2 separate regions of the Homo sapiens genome follow, and region 2 is linked to region 1. The links come from fine-mapping of genetic effects on gene expression. A gene starts in region 1. The other region holds a variant in brackets. All regions are shown on one strand. Distances are between the middles of the regions. Region 1 holds the start of ACBD3 (acyl-CoA binding domain containing 3). Region 2 holds the start of ACBD3-AS1 (ACBD3 antisense RNA 1).

What was found.
Region 2: its variant is fine-mapped to the expression of ACBD3 in monocytes after interferon gamma (Fairfax 2014, PIP 0.95). The same link has a PIP of 0.9 or more in NK cells and monocytes.

The regions. Positions count from the first base shown.
Region 1 is chr1:226,177,131-226,193,222 of GRCh38, reverse strand. ACBD3 (acyl-CoA binding domain containing 3) reads left to right here and starts at 6,482. Exons shown (of 8, transcript NM_022735.4): 1 at 6,482-6,833. The coding sequence starts at 6,548. It overlaps LOC101927247 (a long non-coding RNA gene), which reads right to left and starts at 5,327. Exons shown (of 2, transcript XR_001738504.2): 1 at 5,290-5,327. It also overlaps the pseudogene RPL34P7. RefSeq lists silencers at 6,581-6,875, 6,512-6,991 and enhancers at 10,297-10,797, 10,798-11,298.
Region 2 is chr1:226,137,768-226,153,859 of GRCh38, reverse strand. ACBD3 (acyl-CoA binding domain containing 3) reads left to right here. Exons shown (of 8, transcript NM_022735.4): 7 at 1,241-1,525; 8 at 7,039-9,181. The coding sequence ends at 7,250. It overlaps ACBD3-AS1 (ACBD3 antisense RNA 1), which reads right to left and starts at 5,857. Exons shown (of 2, transcript NR_146443.1): 1 at 5,792-5,857. It also overlaps the pseudogene LOC124904586. The variant TTTTGG/G (reference allele first, on the strand shown) is at 8,021.

The DNA of each region.
Region 1 (16,092 bases):
TACCACAGCACTCACCTTTGTATCCTAAAATACCTGGTATACGGCCAGGCATGGTGGCTCATGCCTGTAATCCCAGCGCTTTGGGAGGCCAAGGTGGGCGGATCACGAGGTCAAGTTCGAGACCAGCCTGGCCAAGATAGTGAAACACTGTCTTTACTAAAAATACAAAAATTAGCTGAGCATGGTGGTGCGCACCTATAGTCCCAGCTACTCAGGAGGCTGAGGCAGGAGAATTGCTTGAACCCGGGAGGCAGAGGTTGTGATGAGCCTAGATCATCCCACTGCACTCCAGCCTGGACAACAGAGCGAGACTCCATCTCAAAAAAAAAAATAATAATAAATAAAATAAAATAAAATACCTGGTATACAAGGCACTCCTTACATGTATGTTGAGCTGAACTGATATCGTACATAATAGTGTAATTACACCTTCATTCATTCACTCAGTAAGACATTCTGAACACCTACCATGTTTCCTATCCTGTGCTAGGGACTGTGGAAGTCCAGGGAAATGCCCCTTGATCTCTAAGTGCTTGCAGTCAAGGAATACAAAATAATTTTCACTACTAAAGGGTACTGCATTACTAAATAAGACTAACTGCAAAACTTTACTGAGTACTGATTATTAGTTCACCAGAAAAAGCAGGAAACAAAAAGTTGAACTCAGTCCCTGTCTAGTGATCCACGATATTTACAGAAAAGATGAAAATATGTGGAGAGAACAAATGGAAAGTCTAAATTTCAGAAAGCATTTCAGAAATGGTAAACACTTCATGTGGAAAATTATTGAATGGAATGGAGCTTAAGAAATTCACACAGCAAAGTTTGCGGATTGGAAAGTATCCTTTTTTGGCTGGGCGCGGTGGCTCATGCCTGGAATCCCAGCACTTTGGGAGGCCAAGGCAGGCAGATCACCTGAGATCAGAGGTTCGAGACCAGCCTGGGCAACATGGTGAAACCCCATCTCTACTAAAAATACAAAAATTAGCTGGGCATGGTGGTGCATTCTTCTTTTTTTTTTTTTTTTTTTTTTTGAGATGGAGTCTTGCTCTGTCACCCAGGCTGGAGTGCAGTGGCGCGATCTCGGCTCACTGCAAGTTCCGCCTCCTGGGATCGAGCCATTCTCCTGCCTCAGCCTCCCGAGTAGCTGGGACTACAGGCGCCCGCCACCACGCACAGCTAATTTTTTGTATTTTTAGTAGAGACGAGGTTTCACTGTGTTAGCCAGGATGGTCTCGATCTCCTGACCTCGCGATCTGCCCGCCTCGGCCTCCCAAAGTGCTGGGATTACAGGCGTGAGCTACCGCGCCTGGCTGGTGGTGCATTCTTGTAATCCCAGCTACTCAGGAGGCTGAGTCAGGAGAATTGCTTGAACCCAGGAGGCGGAGGTTGCAGTGAGCCGAGATCGCGCCACTGCACTCCGGCCTGGGCAACAGAGTGAGATTCCATCTCAAAAAAAAAAAAAAAAGTATCCTTTTTTTTTTTTTTAAATGAAAGCAAGTTTATTAAGAAAGTAAAGGAATAAAAGAATGGGTACACCATAGGCAGAACACCCAAAAGTATCCTCTTTTATAAAAGAACAGACATGGAGAAGATATTTGAAAGTTTTCAAAAATACACCTTTTTGATCAATCTGTGTGCCTCCTCACATATAAAAGACAGGGATATAGAAAAACAGGTAGTTGGCCGGGCACGGTGGCTCACGCCTGTAATCCCAGCACTTGGGGAGGCCAAGGCAGGCGCATCACGAGGTCAGGAGATTGAGACCATCCTGGCTAACACGGTGAAACCCCGTCTCTACTAAAAATACAAAAAAATTAGCCAGGTGTGGTGGCAGGAGCCTGTAGTCCCAGCTACTCAGGAGACTGAGGCAGGAGAATGGCGTGAACCCGGGAGGCGGAGCTTGCAGTGAGCCAAGATCGCGCCACTGCACTCCAGCCTGGGCGACAGAACGAGACTCCGTCTCAAAAAAAAAGGAAAAGAAAAACAGATAGTTGCGCTGAACTGTTTATGTAAGTTAGATTCTACTGTGACAAGTGCATTATAACAAAGATCTATTGAAAAATCTTGGGGGAAGAAGGAATTACAAAACAGTAATGGATGTTTGTTATTTTATGGTAATGGTTATACAGGTATATGCCTGTGCCAAAACTCATCATATTGTAAACTTTAATATTTGCAGTTTATTATACAACAATTATACTCAATAAAGCATGGGAAAAACACGTTTCCTAGACTTGCTATTCAAAGTGTGGTCTGTAGACAGCAGCATCGGCATCACCAGAAAGCTTATGAGAAATGTATACTCTCAGGCCTCCCTCTATACCTACTGAGTCAGAATCTGCAGTTTAATAAGACATTCAGGTGAGCGTGTCTGGAACTCATCTCCCACAGTGAACTGTTAAAGCGAAGTTATATTCTCTAATTTTTTAATTTTATTTTTTAGAAACAGGGTCTCCTTCTGTCGCCCAGGCTGGAATGCAGTGACGCCATCATGGTTTACTGGAGCCTTGACCTCCCAGGCTCAAGTGATCCTTCCACCTCAGCCTCCCAAGTAGCTGGACCCTAGGCACATGCCACCATGCCCAGCTAATTTTTTATTTTTTGTAGAGACAGGGTCTTCCTATGCTGCCCAGGCTGTTCTCAAACTCCTGGGCTCGAACAATCCTCCTGCCTCAGCCTCCCAAAGTGCTGGGATTACAGGCATGACGCACTGTGCCAACCCCTAATGTTTTTAGTCATTAAGGGCAACCACCTACACAATGGCCCTTGATGTTTCGATTAGCAAGAGGTTCAGATGCTTGGTCTAGAGGATGTTTGGGTTTTCCAACCATATTCAATATGTTAAATTACAAAACAATAAAAAAGTCCATATAATTTTTTTTAATGTATGTCTTTTTTTGAGACAGTCTCTCTCCATCACCTAGGCTGGAGCGCAGTGGTGTGATCTTGGCTCACTGCAACATCCACCTCTCAGGTTCAAGCAATTCTCCTGCCTCAGCCTCCTGAGCAGCTGGGATTACAAGTGCCTACCACCACGCCCAGCTAATTTTTGTATAAAAAGTCCATGTAATTAATTAATTACCATATTTTACCTACCTTCCTAGGTATATTCTATAGGTTTTAATAATTATTGTATACTTTTTAAAAAAATAACTTTTTTTCTGATTACAAAAGAAATGCTTATCGTGAAAACTTGGAAAACAGAATCTAGCATTTCATGAAGAAGGGTTATATTTACCCTACTCATTATCATCCCAACAGTTATTGAATGTTAAAGGTAGAACACTGAGCAAAACACAGGGGAATATATATGTATATATAACATTTTGAAGGTTAGGCACATAATATGCATATTTTTAAGCTAATGAAGCTAAATATAAAGATCCAAGCTAAGTGGGAAGAACACAGACCTTAGAGCAGTAGAATTAGAGTTTTTAGTCCTCTACAACTAGAAGTGGGTTTACCATAAAGTTAATGAAGCTCAAGCTTCAGGGCCCCTTGCTTACACAGGCCCCTCCCAAGGCCCTTAGAGCGGCCTTAGCAGTATACACTTCTGTAACAGTTTTGAGAGTAAGATATTTAAGACCTCTGTCTTCGTTTCTAACTTCCCTTCGTCATCCTCCTCTGGTTAGGAGGTATTGAAATGGCTATAGGCTTTGTGGGGGATTTGGCTAAGGGGACAATGAATAGGGATACATTTAATTTGGGGTCAGTGGCATGCATTTAAGTGGTTTGCAGTCACTTCTGCATGTTTTTAAATTATTGCTCACCATGGGTGTAGGAATGGCTTTCTGGAATATACCTACTGCCCATTATGTCAATTCAGCCAGCACCATGTCACAAAAGTGCAAGGCCAAAGGGCGAAGGAACCCTATGTTGCCTGACACAGGAAGTACTTGGGTAGTGGAGGAGCAACAAGGTTTGAAAGAAAAGAAAGAGCTAGTAAAATTCTTCCATTCTTTTTCCTCTTCTGGGGATGTTGTCTATAGGCACATAGAATGGTCCAGCGTTTGACATACTGTTGTAGGCTTTCCTACAATACAGCTTCTAATAAAACTAGGCTGTCCTGAACCCCTGGTAATATAATTGCTTACCTTTATACCAAGAAGGCTGGGAAAGCACCAAAATCTACTGTGGTGTGTACCCACGCAGACTTCAAGGGGTTCGTGCTATAAGACCCGAAGTCTTATGAGATTGTCCAAAACACAAAAAACCATGTCAGCAGGGCCTATGGTGGTTCCATGTGTGCTATATGTGTTTGTGACAGGATCAAGCATGTTTTCCTTATCGAGGAAAAGAAAATCATTGTGAGAGTGTTGAAGGCACAAGCACAGGGTCAGAAAGCTAAATAAAAAATGAAGCTTCTTTGAGTAATTAAAATTAAAAGACTTAAAAATATGCTTCCAACCATCAGAAGTGGAAGATTATAAGGAGAGGGATCAATTCTCTCAATGCCTAATCAAAATGAAGGTTCTCACTCACTGAGAATCTAAGTCATATCTGCAATTATAACTGCACCATACTTCATGTTTTTATGTGAAGCATGCAAAAGGGAATAGATTAGAAACCCTATGTTTATGGGACAAAAACTTATAGTTGTACTACAGTGAGTCTGTCTGTATGTGAAGTTATATGTCTTATCCACCGTAATGAATGAGATCCTGTCTGAATGCAGCATACAAATCTTGTCCTGAAAAAAACCCTCGGCCAGGCGCGGTGGCTCACGCCTGTAATCCCAGCACTTTGGGAGGCCGAGGCGGGCATATCACAAGGTCAGGAGATTGAGACCATCCTGGCTAACACGGTGAAACCTCGTCTCTACTAAAAATACAAAAAAATTAGCCGGGCATGGTGGTGGGCACCTATAGTCCCAGCTACTCAGGAGGCTGAGGCAGGAGAATGGCGTGAACCCTGGAGGCGGAGCTTGCAGTGAGCCAAGATCGCGCCACTGCACTCCAGCGTGGGCGACAGAGAGAGACTCCGTCTCAAAAAAAAGAAAAAAACTCTCTAGGGCTTCAGTAAAAACCACACACAAAATTGTCACTGAAGCAGCCAAACGGCCATAAAAATCTCATAGCACATCCATGAAACTTGAGAGAGGTTTCCCAAACTGAACAATAACCCTAAAAAAGTACGTTAACAATATCAGTAATGAGTTGTGATGCTGAAATAAATTTATAAACAATTATTAAGAAACAAATTTAATCAGCCATGCTGGAGAAAAGACTGATCTTTCTCTTTTCTTTATAGAGAATTACAAAATACGCCGGGCGCGGTGGCTCTCACCTGTAATCCCAGCACTTTGGGGAGGCTGAGGCGGGCAGATCACATGAGGTCAGGAGTTTGAGACCAGCCTGGCCAACATGGGGAAACTCTGACTCTACTAAGTTTACAAAAATTAGCCGGGCGTGGTGGTGAGCACCTGTAATCCCAACTACTTGGGAGGCTGAGGCAGGAGAGTTGCTTGAACCCGGGAGGCAGAGGTTGCAGTGAACCGAATTGCACCACTACACTCCAGCCTGGGTGGCACAGCAGGACTGTCTGCAAAAAACAAAAAAAAAAAAAAAAAAAAAAAGTTACAAAATAATTGTTATAGGAAAAGGCAATCAGAAGTACGCAGCCAAAACAAAGGTGGGAAAAATGATCATAAATGGTGCTCCCAAAGTCTGGAAACACAGGTGAATATACATAATGTCGGGGGCGACTTCAATCTTTTAGAAAAAAATAGGTTTCTGGGCTCTCAGACGCCCTGTAGAAGAATATCAGGCAGTCAATGAAAATATTACGGTTATGTGTGTGATGTTTGTGGGTTTTATTAACTTTTAAAATATCATTTGTTTTTTCTTTCTCTTTCTAAATATACATTCACTTTCCTACCCTTCTGCGCGTAACTTTTTGTACTCTTTCCTAATGAGGGTCCCCACAAATTGTATGAGCTGCGCTTCCTGCAAAACCAGGATCAGCCCCGTCTGCAACCTCAAAGTCACTGAATTTCTCTGCAGTCTCAGTTTCCCCTTTTAAAAAAATTGGGAATTTGCCCTGCATTTCCTTAGAGTTGCTGTGAAGGCCAAACGAGATGGTGGTGGGCAAAAGAGCTCTGCCAACCACGCAGGCCCCTGCAAATGTGAAGGGCCTCTGACCTGGAGGGTTGGGTGCTGGCCGACCTCGTCAATCCTCCCTACTCCGACCCCCGCGCGGGGCTCCACTGACCCCGCCCCTGCTGGGCACTGACAGCCGCAGCACCGAACCGAGCGGTGGGGGTGGTAGCACCCGCCCACCTGGAGCAACTGGGATCCGAAAGGATGGGGTGCGGGGGAGGGGAGTTCGGGACCAACGGGAGTTGGGGAGCCTGAAGGGTGGTCGCTGAGCCAGGGCAACTGACGATTCCGGAGGGGGTGGGGCGCCAGGCCTCAGCCCCTCTCCCGGAGCCCTCCAGCCTCCTCAGCAGCGGAAGTTCCGGTGTCGGTAAGCGGAGGTCAGAGGTCAGCAGGAAGTCGATACGTGGCTGCCGTCTGTCCCCGCTGAGGAGGTGCAGCAGCCGGAGATGGCGGCGGTGCTGAACGCAGAGCGACTCGAGGTGTCCGTCGACGGCCTCACGCTCAGCCCGGACCCGGAGGAGCGGCCTGGGGCGGAGGGCGCCCCGCTGCTGCCGCCACCGCTGCCACCGCCCTCGCCACCTGGATCCGGTCGCGGCCCGGGCGCCTCAGGGGAGCAGCCCGAGCCCGGGGAGGCGGCGGCTGGGGGCGCGGCGGAGGAGGCGCGGCGGCTGGAGCAGCGCTGGGGTTTCGGCCTGGAGGAGTTGTACGGCCTGGCACTGCGCTTCTTCAAAGGTGAGCCGGGCCAGCCCCACCCCCGCCGCTTCTGCCCGGCCCCGGGAGCCCGGCGTGGGCTGTGGTCCCCAGGGTGACTGGACCAGACTTGCCCTCACCCACTCATACTGGGCTGTGGTGACTCAAGCGGGGTTCCCTCCTTGGGGGTACCCGAAGTTTGTCACTACCCGCTTGGCCACTAGGTCACACCCCTGACGGGCCTGCAACCTTGGTTTAGCAGTCATGTCCCGCCTCCCAGAGGTTACCGGGACATTTTACCTGATTTAGCTTCTGGGATTTCCAGGAGCCCTGGTGGAAGAATGAGCCCACTTTCTTCCAAAGGATCCCATTCTGGGATTGCCTTTTATTATTATTATTTTTTTAACTGACGCTTTTCTTTTCCTATTTCCCATGGCTTGTCACATCAGAACCCGCCGATTTTTACCCTTAGTGGAAGAAATCTGTCAAGAGGTTCCATACATAGCTTTTCCAGCCATTCTTGGGAACCATAAACTGGAACAGGACTTGATCCCCCGGCAGATTGATGTGGCAGAGAGGAGGAAGTAAAGTGTTAAGCTCATCATCCTCTCCGGCTTGTCAAACTCTTGAGGAGAGATGTCCACTATGTTCTAGTAACTTCTAGGTGGTTAAAATTTTACATTGTAAGCAATGTGCAAGAGTGAATTCTCAGAGTAAGGCCTAACAGTACCTTCTGTGCTTTTCGCATAATTAATTGTTAAATGTCTCTTGTCTTAGAGCAAGATTGTAGTGTGCGGTTTTTTTTTTTTTTAATTGGGTGATTCACTTAGTCGAATGGTGGAGAGACCAATCACATGATTTTTGTCAGTGGGAAAAACTGATGAAAGCCCGTTAGTTTGATTCTTAAAGATACTTAGTCTTGTAGGGCGAATGGACAGGGAGGGACATCAGCAAATGCAACTTTAAAAGTGGTTGCTAGGTTCCACGTACATTCCAGAGCAGCATATTTATGACACTTTCCCCAGAGGGAGTACCTTTTGGAGTACATATTTTACTAGCCAAAGTTGAGTAGTTCAATGTAATGATACACACGGAAGTTGTTTTCTCTCAAAATAACTTTAATTGTGCAAACTAGTGAAAGTTTTATAAATTTTCCAGAACATTTGATCATTTCACATTCAATGACATATTCGTGGTCATTGCACAATGAGTTGAGCCCTCTGTGTACTAACTAGCTTGGGGAATTGGTAATGGCTAATGGGTTTTGGATCATTTGACTTTTAGATCACCGGCTTGAATTTAGAGTTTGCTGTAGTGATGATATATTACCACTTGATAAAAATCAGGTGGTTTCTGTACAATTCATATAGCTACATTCCATCTTAAATTTTTATTCTTGGAACTTATTTTTCAGTAAAGTATATTGTAGCAGAGAGTAAGAGTAGAAATGAACTAATTCCTTTTTTTTTTTTTTTTTGAGCTGGAGTCCTGCTCTGTTGCAGGACTGAGGGAGGCTGAGGCAGGAGAATCACTTGAACCCGGGAGGCGGAGGTTGCAGTGAGCCAAGATGGCACCATTGTACTCCAGCCTGGGCGACGAGCAAAACTCCGTCTAAAAAAAAAAAAAGAATCGCTTCAATATGGGAGGCAGAGGTTGCAGTGAGCCGAGATCATGCCACTGCACTCCATCCTGGGCGACAAAGTGAAATTCTGTCTCAAAACAAAGAAAAAGATTAAAACACTGTAACGTGTAGTATACTTAACATTGTTTGGAGAGTCAGGAAGCTCTGGATTCTAGTTACCTTGTAAACTAGACAATTAACTTTTCCAGAATCAGTTTCATATGTATAAAGGGAGCTGGATTCTATAAAATATGATGTCTCAGATTTAAGATTCAGTGGTCTTAACCTAACAGATTATTTTAACATGTGTCTTGAGTGGTAGGAATCCTGGGGAAACTTATAACTTGGGGCCTAGGTGTTAGTCACCTTAGAGAATAAAGCTACACTGATAGGTGTGGTTCACTCACTTCCTAAATGAAGTTCTCAAAGCAATATCCAGGTACTAAAAAGGAGAAATAGCTGTGTAGCAATTAAAAGCTACCTTTCTGCATGTGTCATTGGAGACTGTTAGTATATGAGACACTAACTGACAAAAGGGAAGGATGTAAAAGCAGTCAGAAGAATTATGGAATGTGGAGTGAGCCAAGTAATGCTGCCTTTGTTTTGTTTTTTGTTTTTGAGATAGAGTCTCACTCTGTCGCCCAGGCTGGAGTGCAGTGGTGCCATCTCGGGGCTCACTGCAAGCTCCACCTCCCGGATTCACTCCATTCTCCTGCCTCAGCCTCCCGAGTAGCTGGGACTACAGGTGCCCACCACCACGCCCGGCTAATTTTTTGTATTTTTCGTAGAGACGAGGTTTCACCGTGTTAGCCAGGATGGTCTCGATTTCCTGACCTCGTGATCCTCCTGCGTCAGCCTCCCAAAGTGCTGGGATTACAGGTGTGAGCCACTGTGCCCAGCCTGGTTTTTTTTTTTTTTTTTTTTTTTAGGCAGAGTTTGATTCTTGTTGCTCAGGCTAGAGTGCAATGGCGCGATCTCAGCTCACTGCAACCTCTGCCTCGAGGGTTCAAGTGATTCTCCTGCCTCTGCCTCCCGAGTAGCTGAGATTACAGGCATGTGCCACCACGCCCAGGTACTTTTGTATTTCTAGTAGAGACGGGGTTTCTCCATGCTGGTCTCGAACTGCCGACCTCAGGTGATCTGCCCACCTTGGCCTCCCAAAGTGTTGGGATTATAGGCGTGAGCCACCGTGCCCGGCACCTTTGTTTTAATGTGTGGATTTTTCTGGTGGAACACATGGTGTTTTGTCAGTCTTGCTGGGACTTTTAATCGCTATTCTATGGTTTTATACCAGTATCTCACGAGAATTAGAAATAACATTACATTTTCGGCCGGGTGTGGTAGCTTTTGCCTGTAATCCCAGCACTTTGGGAGGCCGAGGCGGGTGGATCACAAGGTCAGGAGATCGAGACCACCCTGGCTAACACGGTGAAACCTCATCTGTACTAAAAATAAAAAAATAAAAAAATTAGCTGGGCGTGGTGGCAGGCGCCTATAGTCCCAGCTACTTGGGAGGCTGAGGCAGGAGAATCACTTGAACCCTCAAGGCGGAGCTTGCAGTGAGCCAAGATTTCGTCCCTGCCCTCCAGCCTGGGCAACAGAGCAAGACTCCATCTCAAAAAAATAAATAAATAAAGGAAAGAACATTACATTTTCTCTTCCACTGTGGAATAAATACGAATCTTGAAAGCATGGATATATTTTTCCATTGCAAATAGCTTGGGTTGGAAATGACAAGCCCTATTTCTTATTCCATCCTTGTCAGGGTGGTAATAGGCCAGTGACTGAATCAATTACGTCAACTATTCTTAATTTTTTATGACAGTAAAAGTAAAATAGATGAAGATGTGGGTAAATGTAAGTTAGCATTTTACCATCTAAATTTCAGACATTATTGACTTTTCAGTATGGATAGTTTTATATTAGGTTACAACTATAAATGAATAGTACGTTATCTTTTGCTTAGAGTCCAAAAGAGGAGTTAAGGACCCAGTGACAACTGCAGTACAGTGTGGAGGACTGAGGGAGCAGATGCCATTCCAGAGGGGGGAAGGCCAAGAGCCATGAAAGCCATGAGAAGTCAAAGCATGTCTGTTTGCAAAATGGAAAATAGAAAGCAGTTTGATGGAGAGAGCTGGGAAGGTAACTGAGTTCAATTCTTGGAAGGACTTGCATGCCATTGTCATTTTTTTTTTCTGAGACGGAGTCTTGCTATGTCACCCAGGCTGGAATGCAGTGGCATGATCTCCACTCCCTGCAACCTCTGCCTCCTGGGTTCATGTGATTCTCCTGCCTCAGCCTCGTGAGTAGCTGAGCTTACAGGCTTGTGCCACCACACCCAGCTAATTTTTGTATTATTAATAGAGATGGGGTTTCACCATGTTGGCCAGTCTGGTCTTGGACTGACCCCAAATGATCTCCCCGCCTCGGCCTTCCAAAGCGCTGGGATTACAGGCGTGAACCACCGCGCCTGGCCATGTAAGTATTAATAGTTCGGCCTTTTTGTCAGTAAATTAGAAGATGAGGAACCACTGGAGGTTTTTAAAGGGAGGAGCAAAGTTGCTCAATTCTTTTTTTTTTTTTAGACAGTCTGGTTTTGTTATGCAGGCTAGAGGGCAGTAGTGCGATCTTGGCTCACTGCCCCCTATGCCTCCCAGGCTCAAGCCATCCTCCCACCTCATCCTCCTGTGTGACTGGGACCACAGGCACGAGCCACCATGCCCGGCTAATTTTTGTATTTTTTGTAGAGACAGAGGTCTTGCTTTGTTGCCCAGCTGGTCTTTAGCTCCTGAGCTCAAGCGATTCACCCGCCTTGGCCTCTCAAAGTGCTGGGATTACAGGCATGAGCTACCACGCCCGGCCAGAGTTGCCCAGTTCTATTTTAACAATGTTAAGCTAGGTTTTCTTATCTCCATGGGTTAAGGACCCACAGGAATCCAGTGGGTTCATTTTATTATGACCTTTATACTTCTTGGATGGAGTTGACCTGGGGAATTGTATTTTGGTTTTTAGAGTTCTTTGGGGTGGACTTTTCCTTCTCTAATACTTTATTACTGTATTACATTAAGCTGGTAGATTGTTTACATTAATTTAAGATTTCAGAGTAATAATTGTCAATAGTTATTGAGTAGATGTTTACTAAATCTCAGGTACTATGCCAAAAACTGTATGTACATTATTTTGTTTAATCCTCCAAGAGGCCTTCTGTAAGGGTATTAATCCCATTTCTGAGTTAAGGATCCTGCCTCAGGCCCCTCAGTTATTTGGAAGGTAAGTCTTGGACTCATTTTCTTTATGGAATAGTTCTACTAGCATTGCTATTGATTATACCCAATTGTGTTACTGATAGTAGAGTATTATATGTTGGGAGAGAATTATATTAATGATAGCAAACAAATGGACAACTGAAATGGTTCCATTTCCTCTTGTCTTCTTTAAACATAGGCAACTACAAGAGCATTTATAAATGGCTTCCTTAATGTTTTAAAATACTGTACAGCTGTAATTTATTCATTGGAAACATATATAATTAGTGTGCCTCCTGGACTTCAGTGGTCTATCCTCAGATAATTTCAAGTTTGTTACTATGGAACATCTATTAGAGTTCTTTTTCCCTTTTATTATCTTTACCTTTAGACATAAGTATGTAATACTGTAGGAGGATATATAGACCTAAGAGAGACAGATGTAAGACAGAAAAACAATTATAGCCACCAAGTTCATGTTAAATTTGAGCTGAACCAAAACTTTCCTTTGACTGGATTCAGGAATGTGTATGTGTTGTTGTTGTCATTGTTTTTTTTTTTTTTTTTGAGATGGAGTCTCATTCTGTCACCGAGGCTGGAGTGCAATGGCGCGATCTCAGCTCACTGCAGCCTCTGCCTCCTGGGTTCAAGCAATTCTCCTGCCTCAGCCTCCCGAGTAGCTGGGATTACAGGCACATGCCACTACGCCCAGCTAATTTTTGTATTTTTAGTACAGACAGGGTTTCACCATGTTAGTCAGGCTGGTCTCGAGCTCCTGACCTCAGGTAATCCACCTGCCTTGGCCTCCCAAAGTGCTAGAATTACAGGCGTGAGCCACTGTGCCCAGTGTGTATATGTTTTTAATGTAAGTGATTTTAACATTTTCCCGAGGCTTCCCTTTATCACACATGCAGTGCACTAAAGTACACAAATACTAAGTGTGTAGCTTGATGAGTTTTCAGAAAGTGGACAGTGTAGCCAATGCCCAGGAGCAGATGTTTTATCAGTTAACTAATACAAGAGCTACTGTGAATCAGTATTTAGAAAGGTAAGCTCTGGAGTCAACACTCTTTAGGGTGTGTTTTCCTTGCTCTGCCACTTAATTTTGTTAACTTTTTGTGCTTTCCTGTACTCAAAGGGTTGTTTTAGGAATTATAAGAAATTATATATATAAACTCTTAGCAGAATGCCTGGCTATTGGTATTTTTGTGGCTGCTTATGTTGTTGAAAAGGAGGTACTTCTGAGAATTGATTATGGATGTTTTGAGTTAATGGAGGGGAAGTCTTAAAACTTTTACTAAGCAGTTAGTATATGCTAGGCAATTCCCAGAGTGTTTCCTACTCATTGATTTAGGAATACTGCATTGTATTATCCTTTTTTTTTTTTTTTTTTGGGAGACAGAGTCTTGCTCTGTTGCCCAGGCTGGAGTGGAATGGCCCAGTCTTGGCTTACTGCAACCTCCGCCTCCTAGGTTCAGACTATTCTCTTGCCTCAGCCTCCCGAGTAGCTGGGACTACAGGCACGTGCCACCCCACCCAGCTAATCTTTGTATTTTTAGTAGAGACAGGGTTTCACTATGTTGGCTAGGCTGGTCTTGAACTCCTGACCTTGTGATCCATCCACCTCGGCCTCCCAAAGTGCTGGGATTACAGGCGTGAGCTGCTGCACCTAGTTGGTTTTTCAGTTTTAATATTTGGTTTTTTTTGGAGACGGAGTTTCACTCTTGGTGCCCAGGCTAGAGTGCAGTGGTGCGATCTCAGCTCACTGCAACCTCTGCCTTCTGGGTTCAAGCGATTCTCCTGCCTCAGCCTCCCAAGTAGCTGGGATTACAGGTGTGCACCACCACACCCGGCTAATTTTTGTATTTTTAGTAGAGATGGGGTTTCTCCATGTTGGGTCAGGCTGGTCCCAAACTCCCAACATCAGGTGATCTGCCCACCCGGCCTCTCAAAGTACTGGGATTACAGGCGTGAACCACCACGCCTGGCCCAGTTTTAATATTTCTAAAAGATGGATTTTAATCAAAGTGTATTCTCTGTGAGGCAACAGTGTGATATGGCCATGAAATAAAACAGATTTGATCTTAGGCTGCTTTGGTGGAAATATGGTAACTAGGATGAGGGAAAGAGAGAGATAGTCCTGCTCTCCTCTGCACCAAGGAGTACACCTCAAACAAGCCGTGGATACTGCTTGTTTGAGGCATCATCCTTTAGGGTTAAAAACAAAATGGAGCTCATTCAGAAGAGAGCAACTTGTACCTAGTGGGAATTCAAGTCCCTGCCATTATTATCATAATGGCTGCTGTTTAGTCAGTGTCTGCTCTGTGCAGGCACTATACAAAGATTTTGGGACACATTTCTAACACTCATATGAACCCTAAGGAGCAGTATTTATTTTATTGATAACAAAACAGATTTCAAAAGATTAAATAACTTGTCCATGTTATATACTTAATAGCAGAGCTGGGAATTAAATTTAAATTTGAAGTATGATTGACTAAGCTGGGAATGTGTAGCCAAGAGAATAGAGAACTCAGGGCAAACACAATACATATTTTGTGACTTTCTTGAGGTCTAATTAGTTAGATGTGTTTTAGTTAATGCTGAGGACAGGAAATAAACCCTGTGGATGGAGTTGAGAGATACCACCTCAGAATAAAGAGCTAAGAATCACAGCTATTCAAAGATGGATTAGACTGCTTTGGGACAGTGAGTTCTTATCACCAGGAAGTATTCAAGCATAGGTTAGCAATTGCTGGGTGGATATTGTAGAGAGGATTTGAGATTTAGTTTGCAATTCAATCACCTATCTTTAACATCCTTTCCACGCCGTAGATTTTATGGCCTTCTTTCATTAAATGAAGGCTAGAAGGGACATTGAAATAATTTGGTACTTTCCTTTGCCTCCAGAGAGAAGAGAAAAAATATGATTTCTCCTATAAAATAGCAATTGAGGTGTGAGCCTAATAGTCTTTTTTTTTTTTTTTTTTTGAGACGGAGTCTTGCTCTGTCGCCCAGGATGGAGTGCAGTGGCGCAATCTCGGCTCACTGCAAGCTCCGCCTCCCGGGTTCACGCCATTCTCCTGCCTCAGCCTCCCGAGTAGCTGGGACTACAGGCGCCCGCCACCATGCCCGGCTAATTTTTTTTTTTGTACTTTTAGTAGAGACGGGGTTTTACCATGTTAGCCAGGATGGTCTCGAACTCCTGACCTGATGATCCGCCCACCTTGGCCTCCCAAAGTGCTGGGATTACAGGTGTGAGCCACTGCGCCCAGCCCCTAATAGTCTTTTGTATACTTAATTTCAGGTGGGAGGGACTTAATTGTAATCTTTCAGAGCTTTGGACTTGGTATCAAATTATGCTGTCCTATTTGAACTGTAAAGTTAAATACTTGTGAGTTTAGTAAGAACATAATGTACATCCCATTATCTGTTTTTAATTGCCTGAAAAATGTGTTTTGTATATCATGTTAGTTTCCTATTGCTCTTGTAACAAATTACCACAAATTTATTGGCTTGGGCTGGGTGTAGTGGCTCACGTCTGTAATCCCAGCACTTTGGGAGGTTGAGGCAGGTGGATCACTGAGCTCAGGAGTTCCAGACCAGCCTGCGCAATATGGGAAAACTCCATCTCTGCAAAAAAAACCCCACAAAAATTAGCCAGGCTTGGTGGCTTGTACCTGTAGCCCCAGCTACTCAGGAGGCTGAGGTGGGAGAATCACATGAACCTGGGAGGCAGAGGTTGCAGTGAGTGAGATCGTGCCACTGCACTCCAGCCTGGGCTACAGAGCAAGACCCTGTCTAAAAAAAAAAAAAAATAGTGGCTCAAAACAACTCATACTAAAAATCCGTCTGCACTTAAGATTTTCCTGCAAGCCCTAACGTGTACCGGACAACCTGTTCAGACTCTCATGGTTGGGAATATCCTCTGATGATCTGACTCCCCTAGTCTATGGATTAAATTGATAGAAGATCTGATTTGTATAGTAAACTCCTCTGTTCATACTGGTATTGACTGTTCCTGATTCAAGATGACAGCTACAATGGTACTGTCAAAAACAGCTACGTGGGGCTGGGCACGGTGGCTCATACCTGTAATCCCAGCACTCTGGGAGGCTGAGGCAGGCGGATCTACGAGTTCAGGAGATGGAGACCATCCTGGCTAATGCGGTGAAACCCGTCTCTACTTAAAAAAAAAAAAAAAGCCAAGAGTGGTGGTGGCCACCTGTAGTCCCAGCTACTTGGGAGGCTGAGGCAGGAGAATGGCGTAAACCTGGGAGGTGGAGCTTGCAGTGAGCTGAGATCACACCACTGCACTCCAGCATCAACTGGGACCACTTGAACCCGTCCCGGTTCAAGCGACAAAAGCAAGACTCCGTCTAAAAAAAAAAAAAAAAAAAACAGCTACATGGGAATTTGTTCCTCTGCCGCATTG
Region 2 (16,092 bases), 39 kb after region 1:
CTTATATATTGTGGGTGGTGACCTCACAAGTGCATGAAGACCCAGAGGTGAGAATCTCTGGGGACCATCTTGGAGGCTGGCTACCATAGAAATAGATATATTTTTGAGACTAATGTATCATGTTGCCTAGAAAATAACTGCATTTTCAAAGCTCTACTAGCTTTCCATGGGCAGCTCATTTGTTCATTCAGCAATTAGTTGAAGGTTTCCTGAGTGCTAGGAGTACAGTGGTGAGGCAAAATAACACACAGAAAATGTAGATTGTAGCTGTGATAAGTACGGTGATGGAGAGAGAGGTACATTATCTTTGAGAGAATGTAAAACAGGGAAGTGTGACCTAGTCAGAGAGGCCACCAGAGGCTTCCCAGAGGAAGGGACAATTGACCTGAGATATCTGAAGCAAGAGGAGTTAACTAAGTAAGGAGGAAGAGGAGAGCATTTCAGTGACAGTGGTCAGGGATGGTGGTATGGTTCATAAGAAATTTGGTTTCAGAGATCTTCCTTGTCTGTTTAGAACAAGTAATAATTGCTTCAGAAAAGGCTTTGAAATCCCTTGGTTTACTGCCCCCTTCCCTTTTTTTTTCTTATCAAGGGATTATACTAGCATCTTCAAATGAGAGAAAATATTTCAAAGGCTCTGTGACTAACTTTGAAAAACTTATTGCATAGTCAAGTGCACATAGGTACTGCTCAGTAACAAGACTTTACCCCTTTTTCTCAGTCCCTAGTGGTTCTAATCCTGTCCGAGTTTTTGTTTCTTTGAGCTCCTTTAGAATAGCCCCTAGAACTTTGGGATAGTTGGAGGTGAAGAATTTTTCAACAGACAGGCTGAAGTCAAAGTCCAGCTTTCTTTGTTCACATCCACAAGAGTAATTTATTCCTAAAGCCAGAATCTCTCTTCCTTGCTAGAATATTTCCCTCACTCCAGCTGGGGCCTTCCCAAGGTCATTCTTGAATCCCCATAGAGGGAGTGTTGAAAAAAATTCGTTTCTAAAATTGTGGGCTGCCATTGTTACTTGAAGAAGTACGATGACCTCTGAGTGCCTGCAACATTGTTAAACATAGTAATCTGGAGAGACTCCCATGGGGAGGCTTTTTTATTCCTCCAAGTCCTTGATCTAAGCTAGACCATATTGTACTTGGTGCCTGAGTACAACTGATCAGGTAGTGCTATGAAAATGTGGCTACCTGCAGGGTGAAGGCTCTTTTTCTTTAGCTTTTTAATACCTATTGCCTTTAGAATCTCTTCCAGTAATAGCAGCTCCATCCATGTGGACACGACCTCAGATCAAAGACTTCAAAGAGAAGATTCAGCAGGATGCAGATTCCGTGATTACAGTGGGCCGAGGAGAAGTGGTCACTGTTCGAGTACCCACCCATGAAGAAGGATCATATCTCTTTTGGGAATTTGCCACAGACAATTATGACATTGGGTTTGGGGTGTATTTTGAATGGACAGACTCTCCAAACACTGCTGTCAGCGTGCATGTCAGTGAGTCCAGCGATGACGACGAGGAGGAAGAAGGTAGAACCCTTGGTCCATATTCAGTAGCTGCTGGGTTGTGTGTTGGCAGAAATGGTACATAGTTCAGGTGTCACCCAGCCTTATGCTTCCTGACTAACACTTCATGGTTAGGGAACACTTTCTTCATTAGTGGGACCTTGGGCTGAAAATGTTATGAGGCCAGGCTCCTGTAGGGGACTGGGGCCTAAACCTGAATTTTTCTGAATGCCAGGAAAATCTATTTGGCAATTTGCTATTTTACTCCTTTCTGAATACTATTTTACTTCTAACCGTGTGTGTTGAAAAGCCAAATATGCAAGATTACTTCAAAAAAAATTTTTTTTTTTTTGAGACAGAGTCTCACTCTGTCACCCAGGCTGGAGTGCAGTGGCATGATCTCTGCTCACAGTAGTCTCGGCCTCTTAGGTTCAAGCGATTCTCCTGCCTCAGCCTCCTGAGTAGCTGGGATTACAGGCACGCACCACTGTGCCCGGCTAATTTTTTGTATTTTTAGTAGAGACGAGGTTTCACCATGTTGGTCAGGCTGGTCTCGAACTCCTGACCTTGTGATCCACCCGCCTCGGCCTCCCAAAGTGCTGGGATTACAGGCGTGAGCCACAGCACCCGACCCACTTTGAAAAATTTTAAAGGAGCAAGTAAGAATTCCTGTCAACCCTGGCATTTATTTAAATTTATATTGTTGATATTAGCATTTTAGGTCATTATTCTAAAATTTTTTATGTAAATACAGAAACTCACCAGAATAGTCCACTTAAAAAAATTTCAATTATTTTTCCATTTGGAAATCCCTATTTTGCTAGAGTGGAATTTTTTTACTTCCTCTGAATAAGTAGACAAAATTGGGTGTTTTAAAGGACAGTCTAAAATATCTTGGTCTAAGAAATAGGTTATAAATGTATTGCTTTTTGAGAAGAGGGTCTCTTTATTTTTGTTACCCAGGAAAGTTAGAATGTAGGGTTTGTTTATATACACTTAATAAGCACTTAATTTATTTGTTGACTTGATTGAAAGTGATATGGAATGCATGCCCTGTGAGAATGGAAAAGCACCATGTCTCAGTTCTTCCAGACTAACTGACCTTTCAGGTGGCTTGTAAACAGACTGCTTGTTCTTGAAGAGGGTTGGCAATGTTGCTTTACAGATTACAGTGGGATAAAGTTAAAAAGATATTATTGAAAGTACATGGAATAAGCCTGAAAGTTCTATCAACTTGTGAAGTACAGAGTTGTCCAATCATATTACCATACCATGCAACACCCTGGGGCCTCTGGGGCTATCTACAGAAACATACACTGCAGGTGTGCCATACATTTCTTGAAATTAAGTTTAATATTCAATTTAACAGTTAATATTTAATGCTAATCAAAAGATAATCCAAAGATAATTCCGTATCATTATCTACATGAACCATCAGAGTATCCCAGAAATTTCAGTACATCTTGCAGATTGACTTTTACCCCAGAAGCAGATTTAAAATCCTTCATTATACCACAGGTCCAGATTCTAGCTGGTAAATATGGAAGCATGAGCTGCTTTGTCTTACACGGCATTTTGTTTTCATCAGTCTTTATTCCTGAGTACCACCAGCAAGGCAAAGCATTGCTCATAAATAATACTGACTGAGACAGAAAGAAAAAATGTAAGATTGAAAAAGCCTGGGCCGGACGCGGTGGCTCACGCCTGTAATCCCAACACTTTGGGAGGCCGAGGTGGGTGGATCACAAGGTCAGGAGTTCGAGACCAGTCTGGCCAACATGGTGAAGCCCTGTCTCTACTAAAAATATAAAAATTAGCCGAGCGTGGTGGTGGGTGCCTGTAATCCCAGCTACTCGGGAGGCTGAGGCAGGAGAATCACTTGAACCTGGGAGGCAGAGGTTGCAGTGAGCCGAGATCACACCACTGCACTCCAGCCTGGGCAACAGAGCGAGACTCCGTCTCAAAAATAAAAAAAAGAAAAAGCCTGTCTGGGCATGGTATCTCATGACTGTAATCTCAGCTTTTGGGGAGGCCAAGTAAGGAAGATCTCTTGAGGCCAGAAGTTTAAGACCAGTCTGGGCAACCCGTTTTGTAGAGTGACACCACATCTCGACAAAAAAAATTTTTTTTTAGTTAGGTGGGTGTGGTGGCATGTACCTGTAGTCCCAGGTACATGGGAGGCTGAGGCAAGAGGATTGCTTGAGTCCAGGAATTCGAGGCTGTAGTGAGCTATATGATCACACCACTGCATTCCAGCCCGAGCGACAGAGCTAGGCCCTCCCTCTAAAAAAAAAAAAAAAAAATTAAAAAAAATAAAAAGCAGTTAGAGAGCAGGACTGTAGCAGATTAGCCAGGGGGCACTACTGTTTTCTCATGTGACCTTCAACAACATCAGAACCTGTTCTGTCCTTTCTGTTGCATCACAGGGACTCATTAAAGTCAGACTGTCTGCAGATGTCTGGGAAGGAAAGTTTTTTGTATGCATACAAATTACTGTACTTACAAAGAGCTTTGTGAGGCCAGGCACGGTGGCCCCTGCCTGTAATCTCAGCACTTTGGGAGGCCAAAGCGGATGGATTGCTAGAGCTCAGGAGTTCAAGACCAGCCTGGGCAACATGATGAAACCCTGTCTCTACCAAAAATACAAAAAACTAGCTGGGTGTGATGGTGTGCACCTGTAGTCCCAGCTACTTGGGAGGCTGAGGTGGGAAAATTGCTTGAGCCCAGGAGGTAGAGGTTGCAGTGAGCTGAGATCAAGTCACTTCACTCCAGCCTGGGCCACAGAGCCAGACCCCATCTCAAAAAAAAAAAAAAAAAAAAAAAAAAAAAGATGGCTGGGCGCAGTGGCTGACACCTGTAATCCCAGCACTTTGGGAGCCTGAGGTGGGTGAATCACCTGAGGTCAGGAGTTCAAGACCAGCCTGGCCAACATGGTGAAACCCCATCTCTACTAAAAGTACAAAAATTAGCCAGGCATGGTGGCACATGCCTGTAATCCCAGCTACTTGGGAGACTGAGGCAGGAGAATCGCTTGAACCCGGGAGGTGGAGATTGCAGTGAGCTGAGATCGTGCCATTGCACTCCAGCCTGGGCGACAGAGCCAGACTCCGTCTCAAAAAAAAAAAAAAATGAAAGAGCTTTGTGAATAAGAATTCTCTGTTCAGAAGTTGGTTGAGGTAATGTATTTCTCCTGGCTTGCCTATTAGAGAGCTTCTAAAAGGTGGTTACTGCCTAGTCTGAACCCTCAGCTGATGATAGTTTTGGGGTTATATTGGTGTTGGGAAGATCACTAGTGAAAATGGCAGGGGTTCATTTCTAGAGGTAAGAACCTTAATATCCTTGATCTTAGTTCTAATATGTCCCTCAAATGAAAGATGGCATTCCCTGTACTTGTACCATTCCTAATCATAAAATGATTTGCAGCTAAAACATTTTAGCCTCACAGCAGTGAAGCTTTATCATTCCTAAGAATTGTTCATTACATGAGCGTCACTTCATCCCATTTAAAGATTTAGCTCACAAATTGTATTTGTCCATATGCCTTAGAAGCTACTGTCCTACCGTGTCTTGTATTTCATATGGTAGAAGAGTCTGAGTTTTTTGGGTTTTGGTTTGGTTTTTCTTCCTTAGGTCTTGAAAGGTAGACAGAGGAGTTTGCTTTCTCTGAAGAAGCATGGATGGTAACACATCCTCCTGTTTTAATTCTCCATTTTCTTCATTGTTTACAGGTCCTAAACCTTGGCTTAAATTCATAAAAGATGCCTTTTCATCTATCCCAGTAATCTTTAGTTTTATAGATTTAAAACAAAATTTGAGTCTTGAATCAATGGACCAGTCTATTTCTTGGATGTCAACAATAGTGTACATTTTGGATGGTTCTGTATTTCTCATTTGCATGTGAAACATGCTTAATTATAGGTATTTCTGTGGTTAAGTAAATCTGGTTTTGACCTACCTTTATAAGAGTGCCATCTGCTTTTTTAAAATAAACTTTTAATTTTAGAATAGTTTTAGATTTACAGAAAAGTTACAAAGATAGCACAAAGAGTACCCATATACCCTGCACCAAGTTCCCTCTGTTGTTAGCATCTTACATTGTACTGTGGTGCACTCATCACAGCTAATGAAACAATATTGATACATTGATTCATTAATTAACTAAAGTCCATATTTATTCAGATGTTTTTAGTTTTTACCTAATGTTCCAAGATCCTTTCCAGGATGCCACATTATAGTCAGTCATCATATCTCCTTAATCTGCTATAGACGGTGAGAATTTCTCAAACTTACCTTGTTTTAAATTCCTGATAGTGGCCATTGACAAGCATCACTCAGTGTGTTGCCAGAATTCACTCTGCCATGTTATAAACCTGAAAATCCATGCCTGTAGTCCCAGTCTCTTAAACAAACAAACAAACAAAAACAACAACCATAAACCCGAAAGTCTTGTCTTCTGTGCTGAATACTCCCTTGACCTCTTTGAGCTGGTTTGTATTAAATATGTTAAACTGTGACTTCGAAGCTGGTTCATAATTTTCTCATTCCTGTAGGTTTCTAGAGGCATTTTTTTTCCTAACCTCATAGCATTACAGTTCAAAAAACTCTTAACCGGGGCAAACCTTTCAGAGCCCATTTTTTGCCACTTAGATCATCTCTGGGTTAAATTGGCCTAGTGAAAATAATTGAATTTTCAGAGTATCTCTGAATGCCTATCTCTCTACTATGATTTTTTCATTTTACTGCTTATATTTAAGATATACAGAAAGCAATAGTCCTCACAAATCATCTTCCATCTTTCTAAAATGGGGAGGACTCATATTGGTCAGAAGGAGGATGATGAGAGCAACATTTTCATGTTACTCAGATGAGTGAAATTCCTGAGGATGAATTAGGAATTGAATGGCTATGGAAAGGGGAAAATGGGACCTTGAAATAGGAATGGTAGTAAGCACAGAAAGAGATAGGATGCTGACCACTGCTACCACTAGATGTTCATCACTGGGCTCCCAGGGCTCAGAACAGGGTTTGGTGTATAGCACATACTTAGGTATTTGAATGAATGAGTGAATGAATGAATGAATGAACGAACTAATAAATGCTCACATGCACATAACTTGTTAAATGGTTCAACAGAATTCCCAACAAGAGCAGTTTCTCAAAGAAAGGATAGGCTGGGCACGGTGGCTCACGCCTGTAATCCCAGCACTTTGGGAGGCCGAGGCAGGTGGGTCACAAGGTCAGGAGATTGAGACAATCCTGGCCAACATGGTGAAAGTCCATGTCTACTAAAAATACAAAAATTACCTGGATGTAGTGGTGCACGCCTGTAATCCCAGCTACTTGGGAAGCTGAGGCAGGAGAATCGCTTGCACCCAGGAGGTGGAGGTTGCAATGAGCTGAGATCACGCCGCTGCACTCCATCCTGGGTGACAGAGCAAGACTCTGTCTCCAGAAAAAAAAGAAAGGATAGATTTTAATTGCCTGATGCAAGTGTGGTTTTCCTGAATCTGTTCATTGACTTGTCTCTGTTCTTACAGAAAACATCGGTTGTGAAGAGAAAGCCAAAAAGAATGCCAACAAGCCTTTGCTGGATGAGATTGTGCCTGTGTACCGACGGGACTGTCATGAGGAGGTGTATGCTGGCAGCCATCAATATCCAGGGAGAGGAGTCTATCTCCTCAAGTTTGACAACTCCTACTCTTTGTGGCGGTCAAAATCAGTCTACTACAGAGTCTATTATACTAGATAAAAATGTTGTTACAAAGTCTGGAGTCTAGGGTTGGGCAGAAGATGACATTTAATTTGGAAATTTCTTTTTACTTTTGTGGAGCATTAGAGTCACAGTTTACCTTATTGATATTGGTCTGATGGTTTGTGAACTCTTGCTGGGAATCAAAATTTCCTTGAGACTCTTTAGCATTCATACTTTGGGGTTAAAGGAGATTCCTCAGACTCATCCAGCCCTTGGGTGCTGACCAGCAGAGTCACTAGTGGATGCTGAAGTTACATGAGCTACATGTTAAATATTTAAAGTCTCCAAAATAAAACACCCCAACGTTGACCTTACCCGGCTGATGGTTAGCCCCTTGCTGCCTGCTCCATGTGTCTTATGAGAGCCCGTAGTTACAGTGTCCTCTAATTTGAAATCCATAAGTTAACAAGTCTATATCAGGTGCAGCTGGCTTTGATTAAAGGCCATTTTTAAAACTTAAAAACTCAACACCTCACAGATTATAATAGAAAAAGAAATGGCCTCAGTTTGATCTCGTTCAGAATGACCCAGATTGTTTCTGCTTTGGGTGCAGCTGTTTAGTTCAGAGTTATATTACAGAGAATTATTTTCTGAGATAATCTTAAACTAGAATGTTCAAAACTAATTGATAATTGAAGTATCAAGATACGTAGAACACCTCAGAGATTTTTCTTCAGGAACTTCCACAAACTTTGAATCCTTGTATCTTTATTTGGTATTCATACTACTAGTAGCAAAATACAGGTTTTTTGTTTTGTTTTGTTTTG[TTTTGG/G]CTTCATAGAGTATCTCAAATTGAAACTTTTCTGCACAAAGAATAAAATTAAGGATTTTATAAACTCAAATTGGCACCTACTGAATTAAAATACATAAAATCATTTAAATATAATTCAGCATATGGGAAGTAACATTGCACTAATATGGAAATCACTGCCAGAGACAGTCTATTTTCTTTTAATTTGTTACTACTTAGTCACAAACCCCACATTATTCCAGTTTGGAATTACTTATTAAGGAGAATTGGAAATACATATGCCCATGCTTAAATTTTATAGCTTTAATTTGTGTTATTTCTTTATTGACGGGAAGAGGTACATCTTTTTTTCCTTACTGAAAACAAATATGGATTAATTGCCTCAAATTTGTATAAGTGATTGGCTAGTGATTCTTGTTTTCAGAAGGGAGAGTGGTATAGATAGAAAATGACAAAGATGGCAATATACACTTAATGTTGTTATTGTATGTTGTTACTGAAGTACTTAGATTTTTAAAATTTCAAATCCTAAATCACTTCTTGTAGGAGGGTTTTCATTAACTGCAGTATATACAGTTCACTACATATGGGTTGTTTGAGTTTTTTGTGTGCTGTATTTCTTTCTGTTTTTTAATACCTGGTTTTGTACATATCTAACTCTGTTCTCTTTTGGTTGTTCAGAAACTGGATTTTTTTTTTCTTAAGCAGTGCTTAATTTGTGTTTTTTAATTTTGATTCAGAAGTAGTCCCAGCTCATAGGTGTTCATACTGTTACATCCAGAACATTTGTCAGGCTCTCTGTCAGCTTTCATGTACATATGGTATAGAAACCATGGAGTTAGGCACTTCCTGGATTTTTTTTTTATGAGAAAAATACTGTATTTAAAATGTAAAATAAACTTTTAAAAAGCAGGCACTAATATATATTTCTTCCAGCCTTTGATTACAAATTTGTCCTTGCACATGTTAAGATGAATTATCTCCTAAAAATATCATTGTTCTTGGGAGCAGTGTATGTTACTTTACATAGCAGCGGTTCCTGTCATGTGTTCATGTCAGAATATTTTTGGTTTTAAACTTTCTTATTGCCTTTGGCTGTTGATTAGTACAGTACAAGTGCGATTTCAAAAAGATCTTGAAAGTAATATATTTAATCAATTAAAATGTTTATCTGTAACTTGTTGATGTTTCATTAATATAGTTACTCTCTGAAGCATTAGTACAGTATTTCAACATTTGGGTAGGAGAAAAAGAAATGTTTCAAACATCTTTTTTGTTTTAAAAGGCTCTAGTTGAAAAACAACTCTTTCTGGCCAATTATTTAGTTTTACTATTAATTACCTTAGTGAGTTAAAATAGATTTAAATTTTTCCACACTTTTAAATGCAAAGGCTAGCACTGATTTTTCTTATTGAAAATGACTAGGTTATAAAGTTGTTTCTCTACACTACCATGTATGTAGTGTGTTCCATTAAATATGTGGACCCCACACACTTTAATGGATCTCCAGAGGCAGAGCCCTCGCTTGCTCAGGGTGGATGATTGCAGAGCACTTGTGGGGAAGTGCGCGATCAGTGTGATGTGGAGTCCCAGAATGAGGTTGCTACATCCAGATGACCCCACTGATAGGCAGGGTGACTGGCATAATTTTTTTCTTTTGAAATCTGGGGAGACAGATGAGGTGACCATCTTGGTTATTTTTGCTGTGTGGGATACCATAAAGCCAGACTGAAGACGCATTAAGGAGAGCAGTTGAGGTAAGCACATCTTGGAAAGTATGCTACCGAGTCTTGACCATCTATCTTTTGGAGCAGGAGAAGCAACCGGTTCAAAATAATAAATAATTGCTAATAATTCATTAGGGCTTAAAGTTCAACAGTCAGGGGCCGGGCGCGGTGGCTCACGCCTGTAATCCCAACACTTTGGGAGGCCGAGGCGGGCAGATCACGAGGTCAGGAGATTGAGACCATCCTGGCTAACACGGTGAAACCCCATCTCTACTAAAAATACAAAAAATTAGCCAGGCGTGGTGGCGGGCACCTGTAGTCCCAGCTACTCGGGAGGCTGAAGCAGGAGAATGGTGTGAACCTGGGAGGCGGAGCTTGCAGTGAGCCAAGATCACGCCACTACACTCCAGCCTGGCTGACTGAGCGAGACTCTGTCTCAAAAAAATAAAAATAAAAGTTCAACAGTCAGTAGCTGTGCATGGGGGTGCACACCTGTAGTCCCAGCTACTCGGGAGGCTGAGGCATGAGAATCGCTTGAACCTGGAAGGCATAGGTTGCAGTGAGCCCAGATCACACCACTACACTCCAGCCTGGGCGACAGAGCAAGACTCTGTCTTGGGGAAAAAAAAAATAAAGTTCAACAATCTACAACCAAAACCATCTTTGCTTCTCTCCCTGGCTTTTTCTCAGTTCAGTACTTCCATCTGCAACCTAAAAACGTGTGCCTGTGTATCTACTTGGGGGAGAGCAGATCTTCATTTCTATTCATTAGCTTTTCAAATTACGTGTGAATCAGCATTGGACTTTTGTCTCACGTATATCTCAGTTCTTCAGTTTTCTTAAAATGTATTTTCTTTTTTCTTTTTTCTTTTTTTTTTTGAGACAGGGTCTCACTCTGTCACCTAGGGTGAAGTGCAGTGGTACAATCACAGATCACTGCAGCCTCGACCTGGGCTCAAGCGATCCTCCCACCTCAGCCTCCCCAGTAGCTGGGACTATAGGTGCATACACTACCATGCCTGGCTAATTTTTGTATTTTTTGTAGAGATGAGGTTTTGCCATGTTGTCCAGGCTGGTCTCAAACTCCTGGATTCAAGTGATCCACCCGCTTCAGCCTCCCAAAGTGCTGGTATTACAGGCATAAGCCACAGCACCCTACCCTAATTTTTTTTTTCTTTTTTTTTTTTTTTTTGGTGAGACGGAGATTTACTCTTGTTGCCGAGGCTGGAGTGCAATGGCGCGATCTCGGCTCACTGCATCCTCCGCCTCCCAGGTTCAAGCGATTCTCCTGCCTCAGCCTCCCAAGTAGCTGGGACTACAGGCATGTGTCACCACGCCCGGCTAATTTTGTATTTTTAGTAGAGACGGGGTTTCACCGTGTTGCCCAGGCTGATATCGAACTCCTGACCTCAGGTAATCTGCCCGCCTCGGCCTCCCAAAGTGCTGGGATTACAGGTGTGAGCCACCCGGCCACCCCGCCCTAATTTTTATATTCTTAGGAGAGATGGGGGTTCACCATGTTGGCCAGGCTGGTCTCGAACTCCAGACCTCAGGTGATCTGCCTGTTGTAGGCCTCCTAAAGTGCTGGGATTATAGGCGTGAGCCACCGTGCCAGGCCAATAAAAACGATTTTTATCTTTTTCCAAGGTCATTAACTTAAATGTCTCCAGTTAAAGGTAACACCTTTTTTGGGCATGGCACAGTATGGAAATGTGAACATGTTTTTCATAAGGTCTACATTTTGCAACTTAAAATTCCAGGTTGTGTTTTGGAGAACTTTTTTTTAATTTTTATTTTTTTAATTTTTTTGAGATGGAGTCTCGCTCTGTCGCCCAGGCTGGAGTGCAGTGGCACGATCTCGGCTCACTGCAAGTTCTGCCTCCTGGGTTCACGCCATTCTCCTGCCTCAGCTTCCCGAGTAGCTGGGACTACAGGCACCCACCACCATGCCCGGCTAATTTTTTGTATTTTTAGTAGAGACGGGGTTTCACCGTGTTAGCCAGGATGGTCTCAATCTCCTGACCTCGTGATCCGCCCGCCTCGGCCTCCCAAAGTGCTGGGATTACAGGCGTGAGCCACTGCACCCGGCCCGGAGAACTTTGAAGTATTGTTCTATCGTGTTCTTTTAATCAACTGTGTGTTCTTCCATAGAACGTCTTTTTGGCTGGTTTTCTGTTATTGAACATTTAGGTTACTTCTGATTTTTTTTGTTATCATTGTTATTAGAAGTGATGTTCCAATTATTTGTCTCTCCGCAAATCTGCATGAGGTTTTCAAAAGTATATACCAAGAAGTGGATACTGGGCCAGGTGTGGTGGCTCACGCCTGTAATCCCAGCACTTAGGGAGGCTGAGGTGGGCAGATCAATTGAGGCCAGGAGTTCAAGACCAGCCTGGCCAACATGGCAGAACCCTATCTCTACTAAAAATACAAAAAATTAGCCGAGCGTGGTGGCAGGCACTTGTAATCTCAGCTAGTTGGGAGGCTGAGGCACAAGAATCGCTTGAACTCAGGAGGCGGATGTTGCAGTGAGATGAGATCGTGCCACTGCACTCCAGCCTGGGTGACAGAGTGAGACTCTGCCTCAAAAAAAGAAAAAAAAAAAGTGGATACTGGATCATAAATTCTTGGCATTTTTATTTTATAAATAAATAAATTTATTCCTTCCTGAACTACTAGGGAGGCAGAGGCCAGAGGATCACTTAAGCACAGGAGTTGAAGGCTGCAGTGAGCTGATGGCACCACTGCACTCCAGCCTCAGTGACAGAGCAAGACTCTGTCTCAGAAACAGAATTCTGAAAAGAAAAGAAATTCTTATACATGTCTGCTTATGCTCATGTGCAAGTTTCTCCAGTGTTTATACCAAGAAGCAGAATTGTTAAGCCGTAACTATGTAGGTCTATTTTAGACAATACAAAACTGCTCTTCAAACGTGGTGCCAATTTAAACTGCCAGTAGTAAAAGAGTTCCTGTGTTCCATATCTTTGCTGAATTGTCAGATTTTGTAATTGTACCAGTTTGGTGGGGTGTAAAACAGAATCTCATCTGTGGTTTCAATTTATATTTTCTTAATAACCAGTGGAGCTGGGCGCAGTGGCTCACTCCTGTAATCCCAGCACTTTGGGAGGCCGAGGTGGGCGGATCACTTGAGGTCAGGAGTTCAAGACTAGCCCGACCAACATGGTGAAATCCTGTCTTTACTAAAAATACAAAAATTAGCTGGGCCTGGTGGCGCGTGCCTGTAATTCCAGCTACTCAGGAGTCTGAGACAGGAGAATCGCTTGAACCCAGGAGGCGGAGGTTGCAAGAGCCGAGATCATGCCATTGCACCCCAGCCTGGGCAACAGAGTGCCACTCCATCTCAAAAAAAAATAAAATAAATAAAAAATAATAAGCATGAATAACCATCTTTTCATATGTTACTGGCCTTCTGTGAGTTGTATATTTATATCCTTTGTTCATTATTCTGTTGTACATGTCTTGATTTGTAGGCGTACTTTAAATATTCTGGATACTACAGTCTTTTTGGTCGTGCGCATCATAAATAATTGGTGCCACACTTTGGGTTTTTGGTCTCGAACTCCTGACCTCAAGTGATCTGCCCGCTTCAGCCTCCCAAAGTGCTAGAATTACAGATGTGAGCCACCACACCCAGCCATTTTTTTTTTTTTTTTTTTGAGACAGAGTCTCACTCTGTCGCCCAGGCTGGAGTACAGTGGCACCATCTCGGCTCACCGGAACCTCCACCTCCCAGGTTCAAGCTGTTCTCCTGCCTCAGCCTCTCAAGTAGCTGGGATTACAGGCACCCGCCCCCATGCCGGGCTAATTTTTTGTATTTTTTAGTAGAGACGAGGTTTCACCATGTTGGCCAGGCTGGTCTGGAACTTCTGACCTCAGGTGATCCACCTGCCTCAGCCTCCCAAAGTGCTGGGATTACAGGCATGAGCCACTGCACCCAGTCCTCATTTAGATTTATTAAACTTTCATGGTTCGAGCTTTCCATATGTTTTGTTTGTGACATGGTCTCTCTGGAGTACACTGGTACAAGCCTTGAACTCCTGGGCTTAAATGACCCTCCCACCCCAGCCTCCCAAAGTACTGGGATTACAGGTGTGAGCCACTGTGCTTGGCTTCCCCTGCTCCTCAGATTCTTCAGGTAGAAACTTAAGTTATTGATTTGAGCCTCCCTTTTTCTTAATCCAAAGCTAAAAACTTTTGAGTGTTGCTTTTTTACATCTCATAAATTTGGATATATTGGGGTTTTGTTTGCATTTAGTTTAAAATTCTTTTTTTTTTTTTTTTTGAGACGGAGTCTCACTCTGTTGCTCAGGCTGGAGTGCAGTGGCATAATCCTGGCTCACTGCAACCTCCGCCTCCCAAGTTCAAGCGATTCTCCTACCTCAGCCTCCCGAGTAGCTGGGATTACAGGCACATGCCACCATGCCCAGCTAATTTTGTATTTTTAGTAGAGACAGGGTTTCACATGTTGGCCAGGCTGGTCTCCAACTCCTGACCTCAGGTGATCCACCCACCTAGACCTCCCAAAGTGCCAGGATTACAGGCGTGAGCCACCGAGCCCGGCCCAGTTTAAAATATTTTCTAATTTCCTTTGTGATTTCTTCCTTGTTACATGGGTTATTTAGAAGTGTATTAGGCTCCATGTATTTGAGGATTTCCCAAGTCTTTTTCTGTTGTTGATTTCTAATTTAATTTCATTATTTCATTTTTTTTTTTATTTACCAAGGCTTGTTTTATGTCCCAGAATGGTGTCTTTTAGTGGATGTTCCATGTTCACTTGAGTAGAATGTGTAGTCTGCTGTCATTGGGTGGAATGTTCTGTAAATGTCAGCCAAGTTAAGTTGGTTGGTAGTGATGGTAAGGTTTGCTTGTTCTGTCAGTTACCAAAAGAGGAGTTTTGAATTATTCAACTAAATTGTAGATTTGTTCCTCCCCCGCACCCCCCACTTTTTTTTGGCCATTTTTGCTTTATTTATTTCGAAGTTTTCTGTTGGTGTATACACGTTTATGATTGTATGGCTTCTTGATGAACTGACCTCTTTATTATTATGTAACATATCTCTTCATGTCTAGTTATATTCCTTGTTCTGAAGTCCATTTCATCTGGTATTAGTGTTGCCACTCGTGCTTTCTTTTGATTAAAGTTCACATGATATATCTTATTCCATCTTTTTATTTTTTTATTTTATTTTATTTTATTTTATTTTTATTTTCTTGAGACAGGGTTTTGCTCTGTCCCCCGGGCTGGGGGACAGCTTAGAGCCCAGGAGGTCAAGGCTGCGGTGAGTTATAACCGGTGGTGCAGTTATAACTCACCGCAGCCTTGACCTCCTAGGTTCTAAGCTGTTCTTCTGCCTTAGCCTCTCATGTAGTTGAGACTACAGGTTTGCACCACAACACCTGGCTAATTTTTTTTTACTTTTTGTATAGACAGGGTCTCACTTTGTTGCCCAGGCTGGTCTCTAACTCCTGGATTCAAGCCATCAACCCACCTTGGCCTCCCAAAGTGCTAGGATTACAGGCATGAGCCACTGTGCCCAACCTATCCATCTTTTTACTTTTTAACTTATCTATGTCTTTATATTTAAAGTGGGTTCCTTGTTGACAGCATATAATTTGAGTCTTTTTAAAATCCAATCTGACAGTCATTTTCTCTTAATTGGCATGTTTAGACAATTTACATTTAATGTAATTATCAATGTGATTGGATTTAAATATACAGTTTTGCTATTTTCTCTTTGTCCCATCTGTTTTTTTTTTTTTTTTTTTTTGAGACAGAGTTTTGCTCTTGTTGCCCAGGCTGGAGTGCAATGGCGTGATCTCGGCTCACCGCAACCTCTGCCTCCTCGGTTCAAGTGATTCTCCTGCCTCAGCCTCTCAAGTAGCTGGGATTACAGGAATGTGCCACCACGCCCGGCTAATTTTGTATTTTTAGTAGAGACAGAGTTTCTCCATGTTGGTCAGGCTGGTCTCAAACTCCTTACCTCAGGTGATCCACCCGCCTCGGCCTCCCAAAGTGCTGGGATTACAGGCATGAGCCACCGCACCCAGCCCCCATCTGTTCTTGGGATTATTTTTTCCCTTTTGTATGGCCTTCTTTTGGATTGAGTATTTTTTATAGATCTGTTTTCTCCTCTTATTGACTTATTACATTAGTTCTTCTGTTTTATTTTTAGTTTTGTTGTTTTTTAGTGTGCTTGGATCCAAAATATATATCTTTAACACAGCACAGACTACTTTCAAATATATTACACTACTTCACATACAGCATAAGAACAATACAACAGGCCGGGTGTGGTGGCTTACACCTGTAATCCCAGCACTTTGGGAAGCTGAGGTGGGT